3 separate regions of the Homo sapiens genome follow, and regions 2 and 3 are each linked to region 1. Evidence: fine-mapped QTL for protein levels in blood plasma. A gene starts in region 1. Each other region holds a variant in brackets. All regions are shown on one strand. Distances are between the middles of the regions.

Region 1 (8,190 bases):
TGAAGGAGGCCTGGCATGAGTCTGGAGGGGGGGAAGGAGAGAGAAGCCAGGGTATGTCCTTCTCTACTCTCCGTGTTTGGGGCTGCATCTCTAGAGTTGGGTACATCTCCTTTGTGGTCCTAGTTCCCCCAGCCAGGGGCCTAGGAGCAGCACCTTTTTTTTTCCTTCCAGCCCTAAGCCTGGTAATAGCTTCGATCCTTGGGTGGTCTCACCACCCCTGGTTGGCTTTTCTGTTCTTCCTTATACTTTATAGCTAGCTTCCCTTAGAAAGTCGCTCTACTGAGCTCCCTGTAGTGGATTTTGTTTTCTGGACTGGACTCTGGCAGATAAAATCATCTTCAAAATATAAAACTCAGAAGTTTAGAAAGCACCTCCATGGCTGGACTCCAAGGCATAGCTGCCTAATATTCAATTCCATTCTAGAAAATAACAATAGTTTATCAATAACACCTTCTATTTATAGGACTCTTTATAGTTTGTAAACTGCTTTTGTACTTATAATCTCATATGAGTCCCAAAGTAACCTTTATAAGATGAGCAGTAGAAGAAACAGAAGTGCCTACACTCATAGTTGGTAGTTGCAGTAGAAGTAGAGAAGATATTTTAATTTAAATCTTCTGCCTCAAAGTCCCAGGGTTAAAATAATAAATTTTTGAATGATTAAATATGAAAAAGCATTTAGTAATAAGAGGAAATGTTCCTAAACTTTATATTAATTATCGTCAAGGCATCTTTTATAGTTTTATCCTTTATTGCATTTCTTATGTTGATTCTTATATGATCATGTGAATATAAATTTGGACAATTATATCACTCTTCAAAAATATAAAACCAGGGCAAACAGTTCTGGAAATTGGACTATAGGAAGAAGAAAGCATAAAAATGAGATGGGCAGATATTAAGCAAAAGAAAGAAATGATAGTATGGGGTGTCAGGGATCTTCTTACAGAACACACACACACACACACATATGGATTAGAAACATACTTGACAATATAGAGTACCTCGGTACAGTTTTGATTTATTGTGACTTATAACAAAGTCTTTCTAGTCTAACTGCATCTTGATGAATATTAACCGAATTGCATAGCCTAATAAACATTCATTTTCTTCCTTTTAAAAATCATTTAGAATTTGGCTTATAATTCTAAGACGTATGCAAGTGGCTGAGTATATACTAATTTCTTAAGCCACCAATCTATCATTTAAAAATTCAGGTAATTACTAAAATGGCATCTATATACCTGGAAGAAAACATCATATTTAATGATTCACAGTTACAAATGTTGCCTCTGCATCCTTGCTGAGCTGCTTTCATTTGAAATACGCATCCCTCCCTTGTCCCCTCTATACCCCCAAGCAGATGTCTTAGGCTTGAATGTGGCCCTGTAATGGAGATGGCATTGTCTGCCTCTGGGCAGGAAAGCTGGCATCCTCTTCTGATCAGTGGTCACTGAATCAATGTTGACATAGCACATTTACTGGAAAATGATGAGAAAGCCCCACTCCAGCTGCTTCTTGGAACATGTTGCTCAAAATAAAATCTTCAGCTGGCCAACTTGAGCTAGGTCAGCAAGACTCATTTTTCCACCGTGAGAGGTGGGAGAGGCACCTGAGCCTCTAGGCCTTGATTGAGTGAGGTCTGTGCATGGGGTCTCGCAAATGTGTGTTGTGAGCAGTACAGCCTCCACAGTACTGTACTGCACACCCTTGTTGCACAGAGTGTGTGCGGAGAAGGGAACACATTTCCCCAACTTCCACTGCCCTCCATGAGGCCCTCTGCTTCCCTGGTCATCCTCATCAGCCTGGTTACCCTAGCAGTCACCCACTCACTCAGGACCTATATATAAGTATGATTGGCAATGGGATGACTATTTGTTTCCATGGTTCTCCAACCAAAAAGGTTATTCTGATAAGTTAGGATGCTGCTCAGACATTATCTAATTAGCACTGTGTCTGCATTGCAGAAAATAACTAACACTCAGCATTTTCACAAGATAATTTGGTCACATCCTGAATATTCAACTGGGTGAGTCAGAGGGAAGAAAAGACACACAAGGAAGTAGGAGCTTGATTTGGGTTAAGCTTGGAGGTACTACGTCCCACCTCTAGCCTCGCTGATGAAGAGAAAATCACAAGTAGGATCCCACAGTATTGGGGTGTTGCAAGAAATACAGAAGAGTTCTTGTCTCTTTGCATTTTTATCTATTTACTAAATCTAGCTGGTTAGCTTTAAAACATTCATGTCAAATTCTTTAAGTTTACAGGAAAATAGTCAAAGATTATTTTACCATGTTATAATTTGAGTCTTTGAGTATCACTCATTAGTATCAGCTGATTTGAAATGCTGCGGCTGCCTCTTGGTTTTCTCAAAAAATCTGTTTTTGGTGTTCCTTAAAAGACAATGTTGTCAGATCTCATAATTCAGCACATGTTTATTGAGAACCTCCTTTGTTAAGAGTGTTAAGTGCTAGATGCTTTCTGTTTGCTTGGTTCTTTTTAAAATAACTGAATTAGGTAGATGCTACTAATTTAAATAGACGTTGCTTGAAAGAAAAACAAATGAAGAGAGCAAGAGATTATCTGAAATATAATTGAATTTGTAAATACTTACTGGTGCTGCCCAGGTCACACTGAAAAGGAGTAGTCCCACACAGAAAACTCGCATCTTTGAGAATCTCTGTAAAAAGACAACAATATCTTACCACAAAGCATTGCCAGTTATAAACTGCAGCCATAAGAAGAGATAAAACACATAGGAATATATAAACACCCTTCCCCTTGGCAGTTCATATCCTTTTGTGTATGTGTGTGTATAGACTATGTATAACTTGCTTATACCCGAGTGTGGACATTTTAAGAACTTTCATATGTCTAGTTATTCCAATGTGAAAATGAAAATTATTCAATATCATTAAAACAGTAAAGTCAGTTGATAGAAATATATTTTATAGACACATTTATTTGCTCTATCATCAGCTCTTCTTCCTCTTGTCTTTAGAAAGAGATTGTTTAATTATTTGTGTAATTCAAAATGACATTAAGTTGATGTAGCAGCTCATAACACACTCTAAGTTTGTCAGGGTAGCAGATTGCACTGTGAGGAAAGCTTATCTGCCTCCGGGCTGGTGCCCTAATCTGTGTCTCATGTTCATTAGCAATGTGTCTGAATTAGTAGCCATCCATGGGCTGGAGAGTGAACTAATTTTTGCAACACTGACATTAATGGCTAACATTTATTGAATACTAAAATGAGCCAAGCACTGGGTCTAAGAATTTTGCATGCATTCAATTATTTGAGCCTCACAACAACCCTACAAGTTAGGCGGCGTTACTATGCCTGTTGTATAGATTAGGAAATAGACACAAAAAGATCAAATAACTTGCTTTAGAATTCACAAATATTAAGGGGCAGAACTGGGATTAGTATCCAGGCAATGTGGCTCTAGACCCAGTTTTCTTCATCAAGACTCTCTGCCACCTTAAATAACTTTCTATTCTTTTATCTTATTACAGAAAAATCCATGTACAGTTGACTTAAAGGCAAATCATATTTTATATTGGGCTCAACAAAATGATGTTCAAAATACTAACATTTAGTTACAAATAAAGGTATTTGTTTATATTTTGGTAAATATACCAACAGGAACTAGTGAGCTCACTTAAGTAGCCATTAGATTGGAAAAAAGTCAACATGTCTTTGGACTATTGATCTTATTATTATATTGTGAAAACAATAAATTTATGCCACTCTGAGATTTCTTGAAGAAAAACTTGTTTTTATGGGAAAAAATAATCTAAATATTCTTGCAATCTTTAAACACCTCAAGGAAAAGCTGGTATTTGGAGAAATGATTGTAACTATTAAATATATTCTAAAATCCTAGGCTATGTTTTTCTAAATTAATGCAATTAGAAGGATCTAAATTCTAACTATAGTTTACCCTTCCAAGCATTTTATAGATCAGGACAACGTAAGTAACTTATGAAATGAGTTAATGCTCATCAGTAGAAATATCAACACAGATGAGGTTTCAAAGTATGAATAAGATCAGATTTTCCTGATTGCAGTTTGTTAAGTGAAGGGATAGAAGAAAACTGAAGTCTGAGTTACTGTGGATCTTGATAATGCTAATAACAAAAAAAAAGAGAAAGTTGCTATCAAATCATCAATTTTAGTTGATGATTTCTAGAGCATGGTAACGCATTTCCTATTTTATAAAACAAAGCACCAAATATTACACAGTTTTGCTCAGTAGAGAAGATTTTCAAAAGTAATAAAACCATACTTGGGTGGCAAGCATCTTAAAAACGTAAACAACTATGATATAAAGCTATTTGCTGTCAAGAACATGAAAGCCAAATTACCTGGTATCTTTCACCTTCAGAATACCTGGCTTCTTGTTGCAGGATTAGAAGTCTCTGGGCATTTTGCTGAAATTTAAAGTTTGTTAGAGTTCCCAATGGCCAATCAGCACTGGCTCACTCAGCGCTAGCAAACAATTTGTTACAAGCGCCCACAGATAACCATAGGGGGTGAAGTAATTTTAATCTAAAAATGTGTTTGTGGTAGAAAGCTACTATCAAATGTTCCAGAAAGTGGGATAAACAGAAAATATAAATACCTCAGTTTGGACATCATGTTGTCAGATAATCAAAATTGATTTCAGAACTGCTAATTAGGACTGACTGAATACCTAACAAGTTTAGAAATGGAAAACATTTTTGCTATCCTTTTATGTAGAAAGTTTATGATGTCAATTTTATCTAAGTGAAATTCAGCAACATTTAACAAAAATGTTTTAGGTGCCTACTGTGTGACAGGCATTGGCGAAACTGCAGTGAACAAAACAAGACAGAAAAAAATCCCTGTCTTCCTGGAGCTTAGAATCCAATAAGGGAGACAGATAATAAACAAGATAAATGAGTTAAATAGATTAGATAGTGACATATACTAAGTCTAAGGAGAAAAAGTATTGTTGGGGAGTAACAAGCATTGGGGGTGGGGACACTGGGTTGAAATTTTAGATAGGAAGTCCTGGGAAGGCCTCAATGAGAAGGCAACTTTTGAGTAAAGACCTTGTTATGGTTTCAATGTACGTGTCCCTCCAAAATTCCCATGTTAGAACTTAAACCCAAGGTGACAGTATTGAGAGATGGGCTCTTTAGAAGGTGATTAAGTCATGAAGGCAGACCCCAGTATGAATGGGATTAATGACCTTATAAAAGGGCAAGAAGAAACTAGCTAGTCCCTTTTTGCCCTTCTGCTTGTCTGCAGTGTGAAGACACAGCATTTGTCCCCTCTGGAGATGCAGTAGCAAGGTGCCAAATTGGAAGAAGAGATAGACAGCCCTCGTCAGGCAATGAACATGCTGGCCTCTTCATTGCGGAATTCCCAGCCTCCAGAACTGTGTGAAATAAATTTCTGTTTTTTATAAATTACCCAGTCTGTGGTATTCTGTAGTAGCAGCATGAACAGACTCAGATAAGCCTGCAGCCATATGACTGTCTATGGGAAGACCATTCCAGGAAGAAGAAATAAGAAAAATAGTGCCCCAGAAATAAAAGCCTTGTGACTTGTTCCAGGAACAGAGAAGAGGCCACTTTGGTTGGAGGCCTGAGCAAGGGGAATAGCAACAAATGAGGTCAGAAGGGTATTAGATGGCAGATGGTATAGGACCTGTAGGTCATTGCAATGCTTTTGACATTGCTATGAGTGAGAAGAAAAGTCCTTGGAGGTTTTAAGCACAGGCATGATTGAGGAGTGACTGAAGTAGGAAAAAGGCAGAGAGAATGGCTAGGAAGCTCTTGTAATAATCCCAGCCAGAGATGATGGAGGCTTGAACCTGAGTGCGGCAGAAGGGATGATGAGACGTGGTCATATTCTGAAGAAGTTTGGGGAAAAATGGTAATAGGATTTGCTGAGGTACCAGATGTGGCCTGTGAGAAAACAATCAAGAATCAGGATGACACCAAGGTTTTGACCTGAGCAACTGGAAGAGTAAAGTTGATTTTTTCTTCATATTGGAAAAAATGCAGAAGAAAATGGTTTTGAGGAAAATATTGTGAGTTTGGATTTAGACAAATTTTATAAGATGGACAATTTAAGACACTCAATTTCTTAATGAAACAAGTAACAAACCTATACTAGAATAAGCCTTTCCAGTGCGATTGCCTGCTCTCTTGTTTTGCCCAAACTGGCTACCAAAATAATTGTAATAGTTTGAGAGGTTCCACTTAATATAAAAATATTATAATACCTGTAAAGGTCATTGACATTATGACTATATATTAAAGCATCAATAAGAAATTATGTAAGAGTTATTTAACCTATACTTTGTGATAAGAACTACCTACAGTGAAACACACCTTTAACAGTTGTATATTATATATACAAATGATATATAATAAGATTTAAGTGTAAACTGTCAATTTATCTCAACCCTCCAAATAGACAAAAACCAAAACATAAAACACAAACAAAACAGTATTTCATAAGTTCTACCTGAGAAAATGGTGCCTTTTCTAGGTCAAGCTAACTCTCTCTTTTTTTTTTTTTATCATATCTAAATTCTGCTGTTCCTCTTTTGAGTATCCAGAGCTGCTTTTCCTCCTCTCCCTCACCTCATGTCTTCTTGTTAAAAAAATTTTTATTTAGGTTTGGAGGTACATGTGAAGGTTCATTACATAGATAAACACATGTCCCTGGGGTTTGTTGTACATATTACTACATCACCCAGGTATTAAGCTCAGTACCCAATAGTTATCTTTTCTGTTCCTCTCCTTCTTCCCACCCTTCACCCTCAAGTAGACCCCAATGTCTGTTGTTTCCTTCTTTGTGTTCATAAGTTCTTATCATTTAGCTCCCACTTATAAGTGAGAACATGTGGTATTTGGTTTTCTGTTCCTGCGTTAGTTTGCTGAAGATAATGGCCTCCAGCTCCAGCCATGTTCCCACAAAGGACATGATCTCTTTCATTTTTATAGCTGCATAATATTCCATGGTGTATACATACCACATTTTCTTTATCCAGTCTGTCACTGATAGGCATTTAAGTTGATTCCATGTCTTTCCCATTGTGAACAGGGCTGCAATGAACAGCCGTGTGCATGTGTCTTTATGGAAGAATGTGTTATATTCCTCCGGGTATATACCCAGTAATGGGATTACTGGATCAAACAGTAGTTCTGCTTTTACAGAACTGCTTTTAAGAACATCTTCCAGGACTAGGTTTGAGCTATTGGGTGGGGCCACTGTTGACTTACAACCATTCAAGCATAGATTTTAGAATATTTGAATATTGTCATTGACAGTGGAAATATTGAACTCTAGAACTCTAGTAGCTTTGGAGGCAAACAGACTTGAGTTCAAATCCTGACTCTACCACCTGTTTACTGTGGCAAGTTGATTAAACAACTAATTTGAACTTTTCTGTGCCTCAGTTTCTCCAACTGAAAATAAGGAGCACAGTATCCATGACCAGAATTTCAGCAAAGTCCAAAAAAAAAAAAAAAAAGGATTTGGGTGATATAGAAAGGAGCTAACAAGGGAATGGAAGTCAAGGAAGGAAAGAAGGCAACAAAGAGTGTTCAGCCAACTCTGAGACTGAATGGAAATATAGAGCTTTCTAAATGGAAGACAAGTGAAATCCACAAAAAATGCTCATTTTCAACTTTGGATATGCTATTGAAGCAATAAATAATTCAGGAATTTCTATAATAATGTGTATATAATGCAGTGTTTTAAGCTGTTACACTGTTTCATAACATTAACTTTATATTTTGAATGATCCAGTTATAGAGCAAACACTTGATATGTGCCTTAGGAAATGTTCATTTTTTTATTGCTATAATTTTATAAATAATTTCAGATATTCCTCAAATGCATTTTTCTTAGTTTCAAATAAATTTCAGTGTGCATGAAAAAGATTTCCCTTTCATTTGAGTGATGGAAAATTAATTATGATCTAGAAAAACCTGTGTTCTAGGATAAGAAAATTTATAGAGTTTTAAGAGAAAAAAACTGGCTTAGCTACTAGTCCTACCAAGGGGTGAACTGGCAGTAGCTAAATATACTGCTCTCAAAGCTAAAATGAATTCAAAGCTACATAAAAAAATTCAACTTGAGTTTTAAATTTAGAACCTACAATTGACAAAAGCAAAAAAAAATGAGAGCCTATTCTGGCTAGA
Region 2 (8,190 bases), 76 kb after region 1:
GGCTCACTCTGTTGGCCCATTCTCCTAGTCCTCCTTGAAGAGGACACACCACCAGTATTCAGTATTTCTGCTATTAGGGCTTCCCCATCTCTTATTGCTGGCTCTTTCTGAGTGCTCAAAGACTCCAGAGCTTCTTGCTATTATCATCTTTCCAGAGACTACTGAAGAATGAGATATTTACTTACTTGTTTGTTCATTCAACAAGTATCTAGAGATCATCTACACATGATCATAAAGTTATGGGATCCAAGGTTATAAAAAGAAATGAAGAATACAATCTGAAACTTGCAATCCAAGGAGGAAATACTCACACATTTAAAACATTTACACATTTAAATACAAAATTCAAAAGTTATATCACAATGCAAACGCATGAGTTAGTTGAGAAAATGTTAGCCAATGGAGACTGTATTTTCCAGCAGGGTGAATTTGGGCATGGCCAGACTGGCAAGTGTGGAAACCAAGCTATCTGGAAGGGTAGGCCGTATTTAGTGAGGAATCATTTGTTTTCAGGGAACAAAAATCCTCTCAAGATATCTCAAGAAATGGGAACTCAACTAGAGCAATATAATGAAACTGGAATGTCAGAGGCAGCCTCTCTGTCTCTCTTTCCATGTGATCTCTCTGCTCTTTCCTGTCCTAGTCTCTTCTCTACAAACTACCTTCCTTCATAGGGGTCTTGATTTCTGCTCTTCCTTAACCTCAGTTTAGATGCACCTTTTCGGCCAAGATCTCACCTTCAATTCCAACACTGGAAATGAGCCAGAGATAAACTCTTATTAGTAGTAATGACATAAAACTGTGCTTTTGTGTTACTTTTTCCAGAAGCACCCAGAAACCCAGATGTAGGGATGAAGAAGCCAGATGGTATAAATGGTTGTAGAATTGGCAGGATGTAGACTGAATGTGGTGAAAGCAAACAGAAGCAAAGGCGTACAAGGTATGGCAAGAAAGCGTTTCAACTAATATAATCAAAATTGTATTAGGGAGTTCAAAGGGACAAAAACAGTGGGGAAAAGAGGAAAATCCAGGGACTGGAATGAAGAGATCAATAAAATGTATTTAATTTTCCATTTGCACTAGCTTTCCCCTTGTAATTAACATGCACAAGGTACTTTGTCTTGCTGAAAGTGTTACTGTAGTAAATTGATGTGTAACAAGGAATTTCCCAGGAAAATCATCTGTGTTGGAGATAACGGGTAGAAATTGGGAACCAGGAAGTATCTTGATGGCAACTGTAGTGCTTGTGTAGGAGTAGATGGATTAATTTTATGTTAATTCAGTGGTGGGAAGGAAGACTATCCAGTTGGCTAGTAGGTGAGTAGTGCTGAAGATACTATTCTGGGAGGCAATCATTTATCTCTGGTTATTGGTTTAAGAATGGTCAGCTAATGGCATTGAATTTCAGTGGGTAGAAAAGAGTTTGTAAATAAAAATGTGGGTTCTAGTCTGAAATAAGATAGCTAAGGAGTCTATATAGATGGAAGATGATAATTCTGAGCATAAATTTCTACAGGTGCTATGGGGAGTTTATTCTTTAGTGTATTAGAATCCTAGTCATTTTGGTAAAGCATCAGTGTTCATGAGTATGAACTCTTTGTCACACACTGGACACACACACACACACCTCTGAACTTTGTACTTATTCCCAAAGGATACTCCATGGGATATCTGAGCACCAGGAGTGCCGGCACACAAATCTTGAACTAGAAGACCTAAGTTCCAGAGAGCTTCCCATGGTGCCAGTCCTGTGCACACAGGCAGAGAGAGGAAGAGACTGGGTCTCGGGTGGAGGAGTCAGTTGATGATGTCTGTGCCCCTGAATTTGGTGATGAGATAAAATAGAGACCAAAGCCAGGACCTTAATGCATGGACCCTGTGCTGTTTTTGCTAAGAAGAAAATGGCCAGGAGGGAGGGCCAGCACAGATATCTGACTGCAAATTGCATCAGACAAGGTTAATTAGTTAATCTAGTAGTCTGTACATTTTTTACTCTAATAGGCTAAACATTTATTCAGGTGACCAAGTACTATTTGAGACTGAGACCCAGAGGGGGTATGTTGCTTCTGAAGGTTGATACATCCCGGTTGCATGATTCCTAGTTCCTGGCACGTAGGGTCTCCCAAGATTTATAGTTGAGAATATATAGTCTTATTTTCCCAGATGGTATAGTTTTGAATGATATGGATGAAATTGTGGGAAATATTAGTCCAGAATCACAAATGGGTCCATTTTAGTCACTGGCCCTCAGTTCATGTCAATGAATGTGAGCAATCTTTGGATAGCATCTTCTTTGGGAGATGGAAGAACTGTATTTCAAAGGTAAATAAGGATACAATTAAAACAGATGACCTCACATCTGTGTCCATATGCTTGGCATAAGCCTCCAAGTGGCTGTGACTCTTGAACTACGTTCAGAAAATGGCACCCCAGAATATATATATGTCTGTAACATTCCTCATGCCTTTTAAAAATTAAGATAAAATTTACTTAACATAAATTAACTTTTGAAAAGTGTGCAACTCATTGGCATTTAGTACATTCACAATGTTGTGCAATCATCACGTCTATGTAGTTCTAAAACATTTCATCATCCCAAAAGGAAACTCCAAAATCATGAAGCACTTTATGTCTTTTTGTATTCATACCATTTCCAACTTCCTGGAGGTTCTTCTGTCTCCTACCCATCTGTGGAAATTCAAACCAGGTTATGTTGAAACTAAAATAGTTAGAAAAAGGGAATGAGACAGGAACAAGCCTGAGGGTGGGCCCAGTAGCTGGGATCCCAGGTGGACTTACGCCATGTTCTGCCTTCAATCGGAAGTTCTCTTGGGAGATCTGCATTAAGCAGTACGTTCTTGTTTTCTATTTTTTAAACTTTAACTTTTATTTGTATATATATATAAAAATACTTTTACATTAATGCATAATGCAGATTTGATTTTTTTAATTTCAGCTTTTATTTTAGGCACAGGGGGTACATGTGCAGGTTTGTTATATGGGTATATTGCAACCACGTAGTAAGCATAGTACCCAATAGGCACTTTTGCAACCCATTCCCCTTTCTCTCCCTCTCCCCTTCTGGTAGTCTGCAGTGTTTATTGTTCCCGTGTTTACATCCATTGTGCTCAATGGTTAGTTCCCATTTATAAATGATGACATGAGATATTAAAACAGATGCTGGCAAGGCTGAAGAGAAAGGCAATGCTTATACACTCTTGGTGGGAACGTAAATTAGTTCAGCCACTATGGAAAGAAGTTTGGAGATTTCTCAGAGAACTTAAACCAGAACTACCATTTGACCCAGTAGCCCATTACTGGGTATATACCCAAAGGAAATGGATCCTTATACCAAAAAGACACATGCACTCGTATGTTCTTTGCTGTGCTATTCACAATAGCAAATACATAGAATCAACCTGCCTTCCCAGGAATGGTGATTGGATAAAGACGATATGGTTCATACACACCATAGAATACTACCCAGCCATAAAAAAGAACTGTCCTTTGCAACAATGTGGATGCAGCTAGAGGCCATAATCATAAGCAGATTATTATTTCAAGTACAACCTTTCTTTGCATTTTTGGTTCTCCCTTTTCCTTCTCCTCACACTCATAACCTGCCTCCTCCACCCCACATATATTCTCTCATTCATAACAACTTAGTATGTATCCTTCCACTTCTTCATTTCTATATGTTCATAGAATCACATACAGACATTTATTGACTATAAGATGCATATATTTTT[T/C]CTTTTCTTTTATAAAAATTATTATATGTGAATACCTGTATAACCACCCATCTTATATATTTTACACAACAATATAGATGTCATGAATATCACTTCAACTATTTAGCTCTGATTTCTTCTTCTTAATAAATATCATATAGCATGACTGTGGCATAATTTATACCATAATTCTCCAATTGATGGTCATTTGTTATGCTTTCATCTATTTATTTATTCTTTTCCCACTATTAATAAGAGTACAATAGACTTTCTTATAACATGTCATTGTATACCACAAGCTTGATTTACATAGGATAGATTCCCTGAAGGGGTATTAAATCAAAGCATATGCATTAATTTTAAAATTTCAACACGTATTTCTAAGCTGCTTTTAGAAAAGCAGTGGCAACAATTTCCACTTTGGAGAGAGCGCTATTTATTACACCTTTGCCAGCTTGGTAAGTGTGCAATAATATTCATTGTTACTTTAATCTGTATTTCACTACCAGTAAATTCGACCATCTTTTCATATTTATGAGATACCTAGGTTTCCCATACATATTTCTTGCTGACTTTTCTGTCTTTTACTTCTCCATTTTTAGTATAGCTACCACTTTGTCTTAATATATGTTGTAATTATCTTCTTTAAATCCATTGTTACTTCATTTTTATTAAAAATATATTGGTTTTTGTTCTGTTTTAGCTCCAAGTATATAAGCACTTCATCATCTATAGACTGTTGTTAGGTCTCCTAGGCCTTCTTACAAGATTTGTATTATTCATTTTCCCATTTAATTATTTAATTCATGTTAATTTTTAAATTTTATATTGGAAAAATAAGTATCCGGTTGTATTTTTTTCAAAAAGTATGAAATGGTTTGGCTGTGTCCACACTCAAATCTCATCTTAAATTGTAGTTCCCATAATCCCCATGTGTCATGGGAAGGGAGGAACCAGGTGGAGATAATTAAATCATGGGGGTGGTTTCCCCTATTCTGTTCTCATGATAGTAAGTTCTCACAAGATGTGACGGTTTTACAAGGGGCTTTCCCCTTTGCTGGGCACTCATTCTTCTCTCTTGCCTATTGCCATGTAAGACGTGATACTGAATGGGCAAAACTGGAAGAATTCCCTTTGAAAACTGGCACAAGACATGGATGCCCTCTCTCACCACTCCTATTCAACATACTGTTGGAAGTTCTGGCCAGGGCAATCAGGCAGGAGAATGAAATAAAGGGTATTCAATTAGGAAAAGAGGAAGTCAAATTGTCCCTGTTTGCAGATGACATGATTGTATATTTAGAAAACCCCATCATCTCAGCCCAAAATCTCCTTAAGTGGATAAGCAACTTCAGCAAAGTCTCAAGATACAAAATCAATGTGCAAAAATCACAAGCATTCTTATACACCAATAACAGACAAACAGCCAAATCATGAGTGAACTCCCATTCGCAATTGCTTCAAAGAGAATAAAATACCTAGGAATCCAACTTACAAGGGATGTGAAGGACCTCTTCAAGGAGAACTACAAGCCACTGCTCAACGAAATAAAAGAGGATACAAACAAATGGAAGAACATTCCATGCTCATGGATAGAAAGAATCAATATCGTGAAAATGGCCATACCGCCCAAGGTAATTTATAGATTCAATGCCATCCCCATCAAGCTACCAATGACTTTCTTCACAGAATTGGAAAAAACTACTTCAAAGTTCATATGGAACCAAAAAAGAGCCTGCATTGCCAAGTCGATCCTAAGCCAAAAGAACAAAGCTGAAGCCATCACACTACCTGACTTCAAACTATACTACAAGGCTACAGTAACCAAAACAGCATGGTACTGGTACCAAAACAGAGATATAGACCAATGGAACAGAACAGAGTCCTCAGAAATAACACCACACATCTACAACCATCTGATCTTTGACAAACCTGACAAAAACAAGAAATGAGGAAAGGATTCCCTATTTAATAAATGGTGCTGGGAAAACTGGCTAGCCATATGTAGAAAGCTGAAACTGGATCCCTTCCTTACACCTTACACAAAAATTAATTCAAGATGGATTAAAGACTTACATGTTAGACCTAAAACCATAAAAACCCTAGAAGAAATCCTAGGCATTACCATTCAGGACATAGGCATGGGCAAGGACTTCATGTTTAAAACACCAAAAACAATGGCAACAAAAGCCAAAATTGACAAATGGGATCTAATTAAGCTAAAGAGCTTCTGCACAGCAAAAGAAAACACCATCAGAGTGAACAGGCAACCTACAGAATGGGAGAAAATTTTTGCAACCTACTCATCTGACAAAGGGCTAATATCCAGAATCTACAATGAACACAAACAAATTTACAAGAAAAAAACAAACAACTCCATCAAAAAGTGGGTGAAGGATATGAACAGACACTTCTCAAAAGAAGACATTTATGCAGCCAAAAAACACATGAAAAAATGCTCATCGTCACTGGCCATCAGAGAAATGCAAATCAAAACCACAATGAGATACCATCTCACACCAGTTAGAACAGTGATCATTAAAAAGTCAAGAAATAACAGGTGCTGGAGAGGATGTGGAGAATTAGGAACACTTTTACACTGTTGGTGGGACTGTAAACTAGTTCAACCATTGTGGAAGTCGGTGTGGCGATTCCTCAGGGACCTAGAACTAGAAATATCATTTGACCCAGCCATCCCATACTGGGTATATACCCAAAGGATTATAAATCATGCTGCTATAAAGACACATGCACACATATGTTTATTGTGGCACTATTCACAATAGCAAAGACTTGGAACCAATCCAAATGTCCATCAATGATAGACTGGATTAAGAAAATGTGGCACATATACACCATGGAATACTATACAGCCATAAAAAAGGATGAGTTCATATCCTTTGCAGGGACATGGATGAAGCTAGAAACCATCATTCTGAGCAAACTATCGCAAGGATAGAAAACCAAACACTGTCTGTTCTCACTCATAGGTGGGAATTGAACACTGAGAACACTTGGACACAGGAAGGGAAACATCACACACTGGGACCTGTTGTGGGGTGGGGGGAGGGGGAGGGGGAGGGATAGCATTAGGAGATATACCTAATGTAAATGACGAGTTAATGGGTGCAGCACACCAACATGGCACATGTATACATATGTAACAAACCTGCACATTGTGCACATGTACCCTAGAACTTAAAGTATAATTAAAAAAAAAGAGATAATTTAGGGTATCTGGCAGAAAAAATTTCTAAGCAGCAAACCATTCAAGCTGTGACTTGGGTGCTCTTAAAAGCATTCATTTTTTATTCATTCACAAAGATATGGTTTGGAATTGGAACTTATGTTTAAAGGAAAGCAAAGCATAAAATTTCAGAAAATTTGCAGCCTAACAATGCAATAGAAAAAAAAATTTCTAAGGAGAAATTCAAGCTGGCTGCAGAAATTTGCATAAGTCACAAGAAGCCAAATGTTAACCACAAAAACTATGGATAAAATGTCTCCAGGGCATGTCAAAGGTCTGCATGGCAGCCCCTCCCATCACAGGCCAAAATGCTTAGGGGGAAAAATAGTTTTGTGTACTGGCCCCAGGGCCTGGCTGCTTTGTGCAGTCCTGGGGCATGGTGCCCCACGTCCCAGCCATGGCTAAAAGAGGCCAACATAAAGCTCAGGCAATTGCTCCAAAGGATGTGAGCCCCAAGCCTTGGTGGCTTACATGTGGTGTTGGGCCTGCAGGTGCACAGAAGTAAAGAATTAAAATTTGAAAACCTCTGACTACATTTCAGGTAATGTGCAGAAATGCCTGGATGTCCAGGCAGAAGTTTGCTGCAGGAGCAGAGCCTTCATGTAGAACCTCTGCTAGGGCAGTGCAGAAGGGAAATGGAGTTGGAACTACCACACAGTGTCCCCACTGGGGCATTGCCTAGTGGAACTGTGAGAAAAGTGCCACTGTGCTCCAGACCCCAAAATGGTAAATCCATCAACAATTTGCACTGTGCACCTGAAAAAGCCATAAACACTCAAAGCAGCCTATGAAAGCAGCCAGGAGGGGGGCTGTACCCTGCAAAGCCACAGGGGTGGAGCTTCCAAAGGCTGTGGAAGCCCACCTCTTGCATCAGTGTAATCTGAATGTAAGACATAAAGTCAAAGAAAATGATTTTAAAACTTTAAAGTTTAATAACTGCCATATTGGATTTTGGACTTGCATGGGGCCTGTACTCCCTTTGTTTTGGCCAATTTCTCCCATTTGGAATGGGTGTATTTACCCAATGCTTGTACCCCATTGTATCTGGAAAGTAACTAACTTGTTTTTAATTTTCTAGGGTCATAGGCAAAAGGGCCTTGCTTGTCCCAAATAAGACTTTAAACTTGAACTTGTAAGTTAATGCCAGAATAAGTTAAGATTTTGGGGGACTTTTGGAAGGGCATAGTTGTGTTTTAAATTGTAAAAACATAAAAT
Region 3 (8,190 bases), 55 kb before region 1:
CTCTGCCACCAGGTAGGCAGAAAAAAGCCAACACCAAACTGCCCAATCATGGAGATGTCTGCACCAGCCTGAAGAGCCTCCATGCATGCTTTAGTACCAGACTTGGCAATGGTTCTCAAATTATTTATGAGATCAGCTTTGGTCATGCCAATGCCTGTGTCTACCAAAGCCAGGGTACGTTCCTGAGGGTTGGGGATGATGTCAATTTTCAGCTCTTTACCACTGTCCAACTTTGAAGGGTCTGTCAGGCTCTCATAGCGAATCTTGTCCAAGGCATCAGAAGCATTAGAGATCAACTCCTGAAGGAAAATCTCCTCGTTGGAATAGAAGGTATTGATGATGAGGGATATGAGTTGGGCAATTTCTGCCTGAAAGGCAAAAGTCTCCACCTCCTCCTCTCCATGGTGCACTTCCTCAGGCATCTTGAAAAGAAAAGGCTTACACGTACTGGAGAGCAATGTGAGCTTGCTTTCTGATACCCAGGCAGCACCAACGCTGTGCTGGAGTGACTTGAGAGCATCTTTAATCCATCTTGAGTTAATTTTTGTATAAGGTGTAAGGAAGGGGTCCAGTTTCAGTTTTCTGCATATGCCTAGCCAGTTTTCCCAGCATCATTTATTGAATAGGAGATCTTTTCCCTGTTGCTTGTTTTTGTCAGGTTTGTTGAAGATCAGATGGTTGTAGATGTGTGGCATTATTTCTGATGTCTCTGCTCCATTCTATTGGTCTTTGTCTGTTTTGGTGCCAGTACCACACTGTTTTGGTTACTGCATTATTGTAGTATAGTTTGAAGTCAGGTAGCATGATGTCTCCAGCTTTGTTCTTTTTGGTTAGGATTGTCTTGGCTATACATGACCTTCTTTGATTCCAAATGAAATTTAAAGTAATTCTTTTCTAATTCTGTGAAGAATGTCAGTGGTAGTTTGATGGGAATAGCATCAAATCTATAAATTACTTTGGGCAGCATGGTCATTTTCACAATATTCATTCTTCCTATCCATGAGGATGGAATGTTTTTCCATTTGTTTGTGTTCACTCTTATTTTATTGAGCAGTGGTTCATGTTTCTCCTTGAAGAGGTCCTTCACATCCCATCTTAGCTGTATTCTTAGGTATTTTATTTTCTTGGTAGTGATTGTGAATAGGAGTTTGTTCATGATTTGGCTCTCTGCTTGTTTATTGTTGGTGTGAGGAATGCTTTTGATTTTTGCACATTGATTTTGTATCCTGAGACTTTGCTGAAGTTGCTTATCAGCTTAAGGAGTTTTTGGGCTCAGATGGTGGGGTTTTCTAAATATAGGATCATGTCATCTGCAAACAGAGACAGTTTCACTTCCTCTCTTCCTATTTGAATACTCTTTATTTATCTTGCCTGATTGCCCTGGCCAGAACTTCCAATACTATGTTGAATAGGAGTGGTGAGAGAGGGCATCTGTGTCTTGTACCAGTTTTCAAAGGGAATGCTTCCAGCTTTTGCCAATTAAATATGATATTGGCTGTGGGTTTGTCATAGATAGTTCTTATTATTTTGAGATATGTTCCATCAATACCTAGTTTATTGAAAGTTTTTAACCTGAAGAGATGTTGAATTTTATCAAAGGCCTTTTCTGCATCTATTGAGAAAATCATGTGGTTTTTGTCTTTGCTTCTGTTTATGTGATGGATTACATTTATTGATTTGCATATATTGAACCAGCTTTGTATCCTAGGGATGCAGCTGACTTGATTGTGGTGGATAAGTTTTTTAATGTGCTGCTGGATTTGGTTTGCCAGTATTGTATTGAGGATTTTCACATCAATATTCATCAGGGATATTGGCCTTAAGTTTTCTTTTTTTTATTGTGTCTCTGGTAGGTTTTGGTATCAGGATGATGCTGGCTTCATAAAATGAGTTAGGGAGGAGTCCTTCCTTTTCAATTGTTTGGAATCATTTCAGGAGGAATGGTACCAGCTCTTTATACCACTGGTAGAATTCAGCTGTGAATCCATCTGGTCCTGTGCTTTTTATGGTTGGTAGGCTATTAATTACTGCCTCAATTTCAGAACTTGTTATTGATCTATTCAATAACAAGATTTATTCTATACTATAAACACCTCTATGCAAATGAACTAGAAAATCTAGAAGAAATGGATAAATTCCTGGACACATACAACCTCCCAAAACTAAACTATCGGGGGAACCCACCCCCGATAATTCAACATTATTTCACGTAGGTTCTTTTCTATTTCCCTAAGTGTCTGCCAGTCTGAGAAATAAAGGCAAAGAGCACAAAAGAGAGAAATTGTAAAGCTGGGTGTAAAATAATAATTCTTGTTATTGACTTCTTCCTGGTTTAGTGTTGCGGGAAGTCAGTGACCCCGAATGGAGGGACTGGCTGAAGCCATGGCAGAAGAACATAAATTGTGAAGATTTCATGGACATTTATTAGTTCCCCCAAATTAATACTTTTATAATTTCTTATGCCTGTCTTTACTGCAATCTCCCGAACATAAATTGTGAAGAGTTTATGGACATTTATCACTTCCCCAGTCAATACTCTTGTGATTTCCTATGCCTGTCTTTAATCTCTTAATCCCGTCATCTTTGTAAGCTGAGGATGTATGTCACTTCAGGACCCTGTGATGATTGCGTTAACTGCACAAATTGTTTAAACAATATGAAATCTGGGCACCTTGAAAAAAGAACAGGATAACAGCGATGTTCAGGGAACAAGGGCGATAACCATTAGGTCTGGCTGCCTGAGAGCTGGGCAGAACAGAACCATATTTCTCTTCTTTCAAAAGCAAATAGGAGAAATATCGCTGAATTCTTTTTTTCAGCAAAGAGAATGCCTTCCTAGGGGAAGGTCTCTGAAATGGCTGCTCTGGGAATGTCTGTCTTTTACGGTTGTAGGTAAGGGAAGAAATAAGCCCTGGTCTCCCATAGCGCTCCCAGGCTTATTAGGACGAGGAAATTCCTGCCTAATAAACTTTGGTGAGACCGGTTGTCCGCTCTCAAACCCTGTCTCCTGATAAGATGTTATCAATGACAATGCGTGCCCGAAACTTCATTAGTCATTTTAATTTCACCCGGGTCCTGTGACCTCACCCTGCCTCCATTTGCCTTGTAATATTTTATTACCTTCTGAAGCATGTGATCTCTGTGACCCAACACCCTATTTGTACACTCCCTCCCCTTTGAAAATCACTATTAAAAACTTGCTGGTTTTGTGGCTTGGGGGGCATCACGGAACCTGCCGACACATAATGTCTCCCCTGGACACCCAGCTTTACAATTTCTCTCTTTTGTGCTCTTTGCCTTTATTTCTCAGACCAGCAGACACTTAGGGAAATAGAAAAGAACCTACGTGAAATAACGTTGAATTATCGGGGGTGGGTTCCCCCGACAGTTTAGTTTTGGGAGGTTGTATGTGTCCAGGAATTTATCCATTTATTCTAGATTTTCTAGTTCATTTGCATAGAGGTGTTTATAGTATTCTCTGATGGTAGCTTGTATTTCTGTGGGATCAGTGGTGATATTCAATTTATCATTTTTTATTGTGTCTATTTGATTCTTCTCTCTTTTCTTCTTTATTAGCCTGGCTAGCGGTCTATCTATTTTGTTAATTTTTTCAAAAAAATCAGCTCCTGGATTCATTGCTTTTTTGGAGGGTTTTTATATCTCTATCTCCTTCAATTCTGCTCTGATCTTAGTTATTAATAATTTTTAATTTGATGGGATAAATTGTAAGTCAGGAGTTACACATGGGCAGAACAGGAAGGAAATGAAAACGTACTGAGTGACTGTTACATGTTACATGTTACAGTATTAGCTCATTTAATCCTGAGAACAGTACTGTAGGGAAAGAATTATTATGCCCATCTCACAGATAAGGAGTTACACAGACTTGGCCCTTCATTATTTTCAACTGTGTGATCCTAGGCAAGTGATTTAACCTTTTTAGCCCTCAGTTTCCTCATTGGCTAAAATGGAGACAGTAAAGTATGCAGGTCCTAGGGGTATTGTCTGGATTAAATTCAATAACAGACATTAAAGTTTTAGCCCAGCACCTGCCTTATGACAGTTTATACATACTGGCTTGCTATGTGCCAGGTACTGGCTGAGAAACTTAAATTTATCATCTCATTAAATCTTCACACAAATGTTATGGTAGGCACTCAATTGTTATGTTGTTCTTACAAGTAATAACAAGCTTTATTAATTATTTTACTGTGGCTCAGAGAGATTCTTACTCATCCAAGATCAATAAACTAACAAGTGGCAGAACTGATATTCCA[A/G]TTTAGCTTTATTTGAGGGCAAAAGCCAGACACTTTTAAGAATATCTCACATTAGAAAATGATGGGAATACTCATAAATTACCTAAGCTATTTCATCTCCCTGTCTCTGATTTGGAGACCTATAAGAGAATAAGCCACTGCTAGGTACAGGATCACATTTTAAAAATCGTGACGTATTTAAAAAATGGAGAAAAATGAAAATGTGATGTGGATGGAAAGAATGTGTGTATGAAAACAATCAAGGTTGTAGCTGGAAGAGGGCCTACAATATCAGTGATACTTGAGCATCTATGATTGTGCCTAGTCTTTCAGTATGGCATTAAAATAAAGTGCATATTAACATGAGTGCATATGCCTGAGCATTGAGAATCTATGCAACATTATGTCTCATGTCTCATTAGACAGGAGACAAAGTGAGGCACATGAGAACATACAATCGCTTTACTAGTTTTAAATTCCACACCTAAGTTATAAACCAGATTTCTGCAACTACATGCATGTGACACAATTATAAATATATAGGCAGCATCTAATGTACTTTTATTAGGTACCCCTGTGAATAAATCCACTATTTTTGGATGGAGACTTCTGCTTAGGGTGGAGGCATGAGGAAGAGAAAGAGGAAGAGATGTTTGCTCAATTACCACTGGGTTCATTTTAGAATTTAGGATTTTATTTTCCTAATGTGGTTTGCAAATTTAGGGACAGATGTGAACTTTGCTAGACGAGATTTTGAAGACTATCTTGGAGAAGGATTGAGCCAGGAGAAGAAATATGAACTTGGCATCTGACAGGGAATTTGAAAGAAAATAGAAATGTTTAGTGTGTTTTATTATTATTGTTTTATTTTCTGTGTGGCATATGTGTTTCTGTCACCCATGAAATTGTCATCCAAATTTGCCTTTTGGGAGCTAATGCTTGAAAGAGTAATTGTTGTCTGTGTGTTTTTGTTTGGTTTGGTGGAAGGATAAAGAGGGCCCTACTTTAAGGTGGGGGAGAACACACTCACCTACGTATGACTACTTTTTCCAGCCTGCAAAAGCCATAGCCTTGAACCTGTTGTACTCTCAGTTTATAACTCTTTTCCGTAAATACTTATTTCTGTTTATACAAGACCTTTCCACCTCTGAGAATATGATACAATTTCCCTGAGCAGGTTAGTACAAGTTAGGCAAAGTGTTGGGTCAGAAAACAAGTGACAACAAAACGTGGCATTATGATGAACTTAAATTGACCCTGATTGGATCTGGTGTATGTGGCCTCTTGGAGTGAATTCTGTCTTCATTTGGTACATGGACTGAAAGTTTGTGGGGCCCTTGTACTGCCCATATCTTTTTTAATTGGGAATCTCTGTACTGGTAACTGGAAACAAGTTTTACTCCTTTTTGGTGATTCCTCCTGCAGACATCAATTAAACTTGACTATAGCACTAACTTGCTTAGTTAAAGCAAGAAGAAAATTCCTTTGCTCTTGTACTCTCTGCTGGGGCCTCTGGTGGATGCTGAATGCCCTGTTGACCTCTGACAAAATCTGCAGCTGGTGAATTTGTTACCTATTCTCCCGGTTGGGTCGGGCCCAGTGGTTCTCCTCTGCTGCCTTAACCCTACCTGGGGTTGCTGGCATTGTAGGCCCCTCACATCTCTGCCATGTCATCCATGCAGCCTTAATCCAGCCTGCCTGCTTTATGACGTCATTCACCATGGCTGTCCCTCAGCAAGATTTCCACCCCTCTGGTCAGCTCTCTTCTGTGCCTACTCTGGGGCACATTGGAGTTTCCGGATTTCTCTCTCGCACTTCAGAGCTTAGAGAGGAGAACAAGTGCTAATCTGACTGTCTGTCTGCCTAATCACAGCACACTACTGTGTCTCTGTTATATCCTGGGGAGCATCTTTTCGGATGTTATGTTTCCTTGTGAAGCTTGATCTCTTCTTGACTGTTCCCCGGAAAGCCAGGCAATTATTCCTTCTGCTCTAGGAAATGCCCAACCCTGTCATGAAATTTATCTGGGTTTTCTATCTCTTTGCCTCTTGGGCTCAAGTTCAGGGAAGTCTGACTGTACATTTCTGTCTTCATGTATCCTTGTTCCTCTCCCCCGAGCTTTCCTCCTTCCCTCCTTCCTCCACCTGCTACACGCAACTTCACATTTCATCTCCCTCACTCCAGCTTTATTCTTGGCTTTATTCCATGGTGTATGAGGAGACGGGTGGAAATAAAAGGATGTACTAACAAAAGAACATCAATTAGAAAACATTTAGCAAACGTAGTGTACTTATTTCATGTTCAAAGCACATGAGAGAACTGAAAGATAAGAAAGGACAAGTTCATCATTCTCACAGACCTTACGAAAGTCTAGTTGGAAGATGTGCCCAGCGAACACTAAGAAAGACAAATGAGGGTAGACCATACAATAGAAATGGGCAATATTTTGAGAGATTTGGAGAGGGAGATGCCTAATGGAGGGTGAGAGTGGAGAATTTTTGAGGGAAGAAAGGAGAAGTCATAGACAGCAGGTGGAGAGAAACGGGTTGGACAAGGCAGAAAGAAAGGCACGGTGACATGGTAGAATGACAGTGTAACCGTCTGTGCTGTGCAGTCACGTGTGGCAGGAAACACATCTGGAAGTCTGATCGGGTCTCAGGCTCTCTGGCCTCTGTATCGCCGTCTTATCAGAAGAGAAAATGTAGGCAAATCTTTACCAACCCGATCATACTTTCTCTGCTAATCTCTTATCTCTAAGTAAATTGTTTGCTTGTCCAATTAAAAATTCCCACCCCAAACTTGCATAGTTGGATAGTTAGAACCCTTCTCTTCTGACTCATGAGGGAGAGAGAAATTATAACTTAGTTTACTTTTATAGAGCTATTTGTGGGACTGTCTGGTTTGCCTGTGAATAATGGTTCTTTTCTTTCTTCGTTTCTCACCAGCCAGTGTGGTTTGTGATTTAATAGCCAGGCAGAACACTAAAATTAATACTTGGTAATATTTTAAGCCCAAATGAGGACAAGAGAGGGGGAAATTTTAAGTTATTAGTTTTTTTGTGTGGGAGCTTACTGTCTCCTTTGGAAAGCATTTAGGCCAGGCAGAACCTCACCATTAGTTTTTTGTTTTTGTTTTTTTCAAATGAGCGTGAAAAAGGAAATGTCCCTGTTCCTGCTTTATTTTTCCTTTAAACACAAATCAATTCCTAGATGAGAAGATAGGGTTTAAAACCCAGTTCCTGGCACAATGAAGTGATGGCTTGCAGAGATCAATTTACTTAAAAAAAAAAAAGATACAATTCTGCTTCTTTTGTGAGTAAAGTTTTTTTGTGTGTGTCAATGGAAGAGAGACATGTTCTTTTTGTGTGTGTGTAGGTATTGGGGAGTTCAGGTAAAGAAAGAGTGTAAAAAATAAGACTTACATAAGATACCTAAGCAGGTGCACTTTACCAGAATAAGATTTGTGGCCACCTTATTTTCCCTTTTTCTTTAATGCCTTTGAAGGAAGCTAATTTTTTTTTTCCTAAAAGAAAACAATTCTTCCTCTTGCAATAGTAGAACCAAGAAGAAATGGACACTTGACCACTCTTTGCTTTGGGGAGGAGCATTTATTTTTTCTAGCGTCTGCTAGGAAATATTCAGATAATACAGAATATGCATTTTGGAAAGATGTGGGCCTGCACATATTTCCCATTATTGCCTCTGATGATGTACTGTGTACAATCATGTTAATGGACTTGTCATAAAATTGAATAAATGATTGTAAGGAATATTTATTTTTTGTTATTTGTTTAGATTTGCTTTTCATTTCTACTGTTAAAATCCTTGATAGAATTTGGATCTGTGTCCCCACTCAAATATTATGTTGATTTGTAATCCCCAATGTTAGAGGGCCTGGTGGGAGGTTAACTGGATGATGGGGATGGATTTCCTTC

Alleles and levels. Positions count from the first base shown, and alleles are read on the strand shown. Strength reflects both the effect of a copy and how common the allele is.
In carriers of allele T in region 2, the plasma level of the protein whose gene starts at base 4,414 in region 1 tends to be lower than with C alone (weak association).
For the plasma level of the protein whose gene starts at base 4,414 in region 1, G is the low allele of the variant in region 3 and A is the other (moderate association).

Evidence for each region. PIP is the chance, under the fine-mapping model, that this variant and not a neighbour inherited with it causes the effect. Protein levels are from antibody-based Olink assays in UK Biobank. Linkage for the fine-mapping came from a reference panel and not from the study's own genotypes, which makes the PIPs less certain.
Region 2: its variant is fine-mapped to the plasma level of the MEPE protein (UK Biobank, PIP 0.96).
Region 3: its variant is fine-mapped to the plasma level of the MEPE protein (UK Biobank, PIP above 0.99).

Annotation. Positions count from the first base shown.
Region 1 is chr4:87,829,193-87,837,382 of GRCh38, reverse strand. MEPE (matrix extracellular phosphoglycoprotein) reads right to left here and starts at 4,414. Exons shown (of 4, transcript NM_020203.6): 1 at 4,369-4,414; 2 at 2,615-2,680. The coding sequence starts at 2,668.
Region 2 is chr4:87,752,852-87,761,041 of GRCh38, reverse strand. No RefSeq gene overlaps it. Among named protein-coding and RNA genes, the nearest start is that of DMP1-AS1, 25 kb to the right of the region's middle. The variant T/C (reference allele first, on the strand shown) is at 3,750.
Region 3 is chr4:87,884,075-87,892,264 of GRCh38, reverse strand. It overlaps the pseudogene HSP90AB3P. Among named protein-coding and RNA genes, the nearest start is that of MEPE, 55 kb to the right of the region's middle. RefSeq lists an enhancer at 1-235. The variant A/G (reference allele first, on the strand shown) is at 4,278.